Linked DNA regions of Homo sapiens. The protein of the gene in region 1 purifies or fractionates together with the protein of each later gene. This does not show direct contact. Each region holds a gene or a part of one and is shown on either strand. Other genes may lie near its edges.

Region 1 (3,514 bases):
TTTTCTTGGGATTTAAACCAGGTAGAGGGGTAGAGGAGGAGTTGAAGGAGGGAAATCTCACTAAAATCGGCAATTTTGCAAATGTAGTGGCCTTGCATTGCAGTAGTGTTGTTTTCAGTAGTCTTATAAAGTCTGATAGGGTGACTTATTGTATGGATTAGATAAAGAATTTAAAATTGGAAGCCAGAGAAAATGTGAAATGAGTGTGTACACAAATTATCATAGAAGAGGGTCAAATTGTTGCCCAAAGGCTTGTAAACTAAGGTGCAGTTTCAGAGATAATCTGCTTAATAAATGTCTCAAAGGATTTTTATTTTCACAAATCCTGGCCCATCTCAGTTGTTCTAATGTAATGAACTATTAGAGAGGTTTGCAGTGGTAAAGGGGACTGGGTGTGTAGGATAAACATCTGTTCCAGACTGACTGCTTCTAGGAATGTGACTTCTGATTCACTTTACTTTCAAAACTTCAAGAGTAATCTCTAAAGTTGTGTATCTTTTACAATGAAATGTGAACAGTTCAAATGTATTATTTTCTCAGTGGGAATGGATTCAGGGGATTTCAGTTCAATATATTCTCCATCAGTGTTTTGTCACAAGGAAACTAGAACTGAGAACCAATTCACAACAAAAAGGTAATCCAAATCAAGAAATAAAATGTACCAGTTACCTTTTCAACTTTGATTTACTGGTCAGTCGAAAAAGCTTTTAAAAAATAGGACAGTAAGGCCTAGTGCGGTGGCTCACGCCTGTAATCCCAGCACTTTGGGAGGCCAAGGCGAGTGGACCACTTGAGGTCAGGAGTTCGAGACCAGCCTGGCCAACATGGTGAAACCTCGTCTCTACTAAAAATACAAAAATTAGCCTGGCACTTTGGCGCGTGGCTGTAATCCCAGCTACTTGGGGGGCTGAGGCACGATAATTGCTTGAACTCAGAGGCAGAGGTTGCAGGGAGCTGAGATTGGCACCACTGTACTCCATCCTGGGTGACACAGCGAGACTCTGTCTAAAAAAAAAAAAAAAAAAAGGAAAAAATAGGATAGTAAACACTGTCAGGTCCTGCAATAATTATGTGTAATACTGAACAGATACTGAACAGAAATGTTCCAGGTGCTGTAAAAACACACATATAAGAATATAATCTGTGCCCTTCTAAAAACCTGTATATGCTGAATATTATCATGGATTTAGTAAGCATTCATTACTTAAAAATTAGTTTCAAATATCAGTGATCAAAAAAAATTTAAGTAGTAAAATAAGTTGGACATACCAAGTTCTTTTGAGAGTAGTATGCTTTCCTACTAAGCTACTTTTGGCAGCTACTTTTGCAGTCGATTTAAAGGTTAAGATAGCAGAAAATTCAAATGTTTAAGTGAGTCATTAGTGTAACCTAGCTGTGAACTTCGTTACACACACATACACACATCCTGAAAGAAAAGCTATTGTTTTACATAATCAGTTTCTGATAATGCTGTGCTCTAGTTAATTACGGGATTTCTTTTTTTACTACCAGGAATTCCTCTTGAATGATATTTAAGTGATTGTTGAATCATATTTGTGTGATTGGTATCCTGATAATTATTCTGAAGTTGAAGCTCTCCTTGTCCTATTTAAGTGTGATTTTGCCGAGCCTTTTGGCTTATGTTTGGTTTCTTGTCTAACAGAGTTATAGTTTGTGTGTGTGTGTGTTTTTTTTTTAAATAATGGAGGAGAAATGAGCATTTTAAATATGTGTTAGAACATTGTTAAGATTGCATAGGCCAATTTAATGAACATTTGAACACAACTCAAGTTCAAATACTAAATATATTTACTAGCTTCAAGTTTGGGTTGGAATTGTGATTTGTATAGCTAACTTGTTGGTGTGCCAAGTAATATAAGATGTACTGTGTGTCTGTACATTAGGTAACTAGGTCAGAGAGTACAGTTAATATAAGATGCTTTTTTTGGTAAAGTGGTCTGTGCCAGTGTAAAATTATTATTATTATTATTTTTCGAGATGGAGTCTTGCTCTGTCACCCAGGCTGGAGTGCGATGGCACGATCTCGGCTCACTGCAACTTTGCTTCCCAGGTTCAAGCGATTTTCCTGCCTCAGTCTCCCGAGTAGCTGGGATTACAGACATGTGCCACCACACCTGGCTAATTTTTGTATTTTTAGAAGAGACAGGGTTTTACCATGTTGGCCAGGCTGGTCTTGAACTCCTAACCTCAAGTGATCCACCTGCCTTGGCTTCCTAAAGGGCCGGGATTACAGGCGTGAGCCACTGCACACGGCATATTTTTAACTGGTAAAATTTGCCAGTATGTCAGCAAGTGTGAGCAATATATTTAACTGTGAAAATTTTCCTTATATGGTTAGTTATAAAATGATGTGGCCTCTAATTCATAAACCACTCGGTATTTGAGGAATCCTCATACCCTATTTGTCTTGGGTATTTGCATCAGAAGTCGAAGCCATGGGTTTTATCTTAATTTTAAAGTAGTTATATACATGACTTTTAAGGACTTTGGTTAGGCTGTTTTTCATTGCAAGGAACAGAAAGTCTTCCGAGTCATCTCAAGTTGGGGAAAAGTAGAACAGAAATTTAAGCCGTACGAGCCAGGCCTCACCTAAGAACAAAAACCCCAGGTCTGCAGTGCCTCATACATACTGGAATACTGTCAGGGATATGGGTCCCACCCAGCTTTAGCGACCAGATACCTTGTTGCCTCCTCAGCAGGAGGAGTTTGTGGCGCCTTACCCTAGTGCCATGGCCCTGTATATGAATGTCCAGGCTGTGTGTTGCAATAAATATACCACCCCAAAGGGGACAATATTAATGTGGTTGGCCTGGACTAACCTTAAAAGAGAGCTTGTGAGGAAGCATGGCTGTGCAGCATCTTCAGACAGTCCTGCAGCAGCAGGGCAGAGCTCCTCCTACAAAAACCCATTCTAGCTCACGCAGCCATGCACACACTTAGCAGAGCATGCACGGACACATTCATTGGCACCTGTATATGTTCCCTAGGCTCCCAGAAGTCTGATTCTTTTTTGAGAGAGGGTCTCGCTCTGTTGTTCAGGCTGGAGTGCAGTGGCATGAGCATAGCTCACTGCAGCCTTGAACTCCTGGGCTCAAGTTATCCTCCCTCCTTGGCCTCCCGAGTAGCTGGGACTGGGACTAGAGGTGTGTACCACTACACCTGGCTAATTTTTTTTTGTAGAAATCAAGTCTTGTCATGTTGCCCAGGTTGGTCTTGAAGTCCTAGGCTCAAGTGATCCTCCTACCTTGGCCACCCAAAGTCCTAGGATTACAGGTGTGAGCCACCATGCCCAGCCAAAGGTCTGATTCTTGACCTTCTTCCTGCTTCTGGGGTGGGAAGCAAGGGAGTACAGTGATGAAGGCACTCAGTGTGTGTGGGGTGAATACAGTTCAGGGGGAGTGTGAGCAGATGAGCATGTGGGCATATGTCTGTCTGTGTGAACTGCCTGGGGAGGCACTGGAAATGTTCTCTGGCAGGACCTGGCTATGCTGGG
Region 2 (2,588 bases), on another chromosome or scaffold:
CCGGGTGGACCATGACACCATCATCGACGCCACCAAGTGCGGCAACTTCGCGCGCTTCATCAACCACAGCTGCAACGTGAGTGCCCAGCGGGGGGTGGCCCCTGCCCCTGCTCCTGCCCCTGGCCCTGCTTCTGTGCCAGGAGGGCCTGGAAGCCCCGGCACGGGAATCAGCTCGGCCTCCTTCCCAAGCTCAGGTTGGCCAAGGGTTATAGGGAGAGGAGGACATGTGAGGTCTTTTACCAGGAGCTCTACTCCTCTGAGCCTCAGTTTCTCATCTGTCAAATGGGCATAGTGAGACTTCTGTGGCATTTAGAGGACTCAAAGAAGTGGTTGGTTCAGTTCATTGGTAATTTCGGAGTTATTTCTCTGCGTTAGCCTTTTCTCCGTGCCTTCATTGGTCAGGCTCAGTCCTGCTCGGGCCGAGCTGTCCACTAGAACTTTCTGCAAGGGGGAGGTGCACTGCGTGCATCTGTGCTGTGGGTTAGCCACATGTGTGGTGGTGAGCACTGGAAATGTGCCCAGTGCATCTGGGGACCTGAGTTTTAAATTTTATTTCATTTTGATGAATTTAAACTTAATTAGCTTGTGACGACTGTATTGGGTGGTGCAGGCCTAGAGGGGAGGGACACTGATAACAGGGATTTGAGTGCTGAAGGAAGAGCACAGGAAGCTCTGAGCAGGAGGCAGGCATGTTCCGGGGTGGATGCCCCTGACTTTGGGTTCAAGTCTTGGCATTGCAGCTTAGTGAGTTACTTAATGTCTCTTATGCCTGAGTTTCCTTGTCTGTAAAACAGAGACAATAACAGTCTCTCCTTTTAGGTTGTTGGGAGGGCCACATAGGTGGGTCACTGCACGTGGGCCATTTGAGTGCTGGCCAGGCCAGTCCTCAGCGCCTGCTGGCTCTCTTCGTTGTGACTTGATCCTTGCCTGGGTGGTAGGGACTTTCCTGTGAATATCCGGGGAGATCTGAGGGGTGAGAGGGAATTGCCCAGGGGAAGCGGTGCTGGGGCAAGGGGAACTGCGTGTTCAAAGGCCCTGGGGCAGTTGGGAGAACACCTGTTTGAGAGATAGCAAGGGAGGCAGTGGGCATGGGGTGGGGTAAGAGGATGGGGTGGGCAGGGCTGAGGGTGGCCAAGCTGAGGAACTAAGTTTCTCTGAGAGCCAAGGTCGCTGGAAGGTTGGAGCCATCGGGCAACAGGTTCTGCTATCCCTTTGGAAACGTTTCCCTGGCTGCTGGGGCAGGAGTGGATTTTTTCAGGGGTGAGAGTGGCCAAGGGGGCTGTAGCAGGCGGGTGAGCAGTGATGGGGGCCTGAGCGTGGCTGGTGGCCCCAGAAGTGGAGAGCAGTAGACACAACCAAGAGGCCCTTCCGGGACTGAACTCACCGGCCCTGGTTGGGGCCAGATCTGGACTGAAGGAGGCAGGGAGGCAGATGCTCTGGGGCCTGGGTGTGTGGTGCAGCGGCTGCCCAGAGCAGGAGCAGATCATGCTTTAGGTGTGAGCTAAGTCAAAGACAGTACCCAGGGCTGCCACTGGCAGACAGCAGGTAGTTGCATTTATGGGCTTGGAGGCCTTTACCTTTTCTGTAAAGGGCCAGATAATAAATGTTTTTGGCTTGGTGGCTCAGATGATCTCTATGGCAACTACTGAACTTGGCTATTGTAACAAAAGCAGCCACAAATTATATGCAAATGAATGGGAGAATGGATATGGCTATGTGCCAGTAAAACTTTATTTACAAAAACAGGCTGCTAGGGGCTATAGTTTGCTGACCCTTTTTTTAGAGCTCAGAAGTGAGACCTGAGCTAAAAATAGACATACATTTGGGAGGCACTTGTACTACGAATGGAAATGAAAGGCCTGGGAAATAATTTTTATCATCATTATTTAATATCAGAGGCAAGGGGTCACCCCTGGGGGTCGGGGGAGCCAAGGTCCAGAGCAGAGCAGTGGGCTGGGGGTCACGTGGCATGTCAGGCCTTAAGCACAGGCCTGGTTGGGTTTGGGGGGTCTGCAGTGGTGGGGGACCCTGGGGGACCAGGGGCTCATTCTCCCCCCCACCTTGCCTGCAGCCCAACTGCTATGCCAAGGTGATCACGGTGGAGTCACAGAAGAAGATAGTCATCTACTCGAAGCAGCACATTAACGTCAATGAGGAGATTACCTATGACTATAAGTTCCCCATCGAGGACGTCAAGATCCCCTGCCTCTGTGGCTCCGAGAACTGCCGGGGGACCCTCAACTAGGCCCCGGCACCAGACTCAAAGGATGTCAGCCGTAGCCCTGGGACTCCCGAGCGTGGAGCCCCTGGCCCCGGGGCCCGGCCCCCCGCGCCCGCCCCCATTTCAGGTGCTGTCCTCTACCCAGCGGCCATTCAGGGCCTGGCGCCCCACACTACCCCCTGGAGCCCCTGGCTCCGGCCCCTCCGCGGGAAAGGGCTTCTCTGTCGTTCAGCCCACGTCTCTCTCATTTTAACAAACGCCCCTTTCAGGATTTCTGTTTAACTCCAGCATCAGCTTCTCTCTCTCCGTCTCTCCTCCCCTCTCTCTCTTCTCTGTCTCTTCTCTCTCCCACCATCACCCTCGGCCT

Evidence for each region.
Region 2: the proteins of RERE (region 1) and SETD1B purify together in Homo sapiens (affinity purification with mass spectrometry, with the first as the bait; one large-scale study listed by BioGRID). This does not show direct contact.

Annotation. Positions count from the first base shown.
Region 1 is NC_000001.11:8,811,127-8,814,640, reverse strand, and holds part of RERE (arginine-glutamic acid dipeptide repeats protein), read left to right. Parts: intron 1-3,514. UniProt on the Homo sapiens protein: Plays a role as a transcriptional repressor during development. May play a role in the control of cell survival. Overexpression of RERE recruits BAX to the nucleus particularly to POD and triggers caspase-3 activation, leading to cell death.
Region 2 is NC_000012.12:121,827,995-121,830,582, forward strand, and holds part of SETD1B (histone-lysine N-methyltransferase SETD1B), read left to right. Parts: coding exon 1-76; intron 77-2,071; coding exon 2,072-2,245; 3' UTR 2,246-2,588. UniProt on the Homo sapiens protein: Histone methyltransferase that catalyzes methyl group transfer from S-adenosyl-L-methionine to the epsilon-amino group of 'Lys-4' of histone H3 (H3K4) via a non-processive mechanism.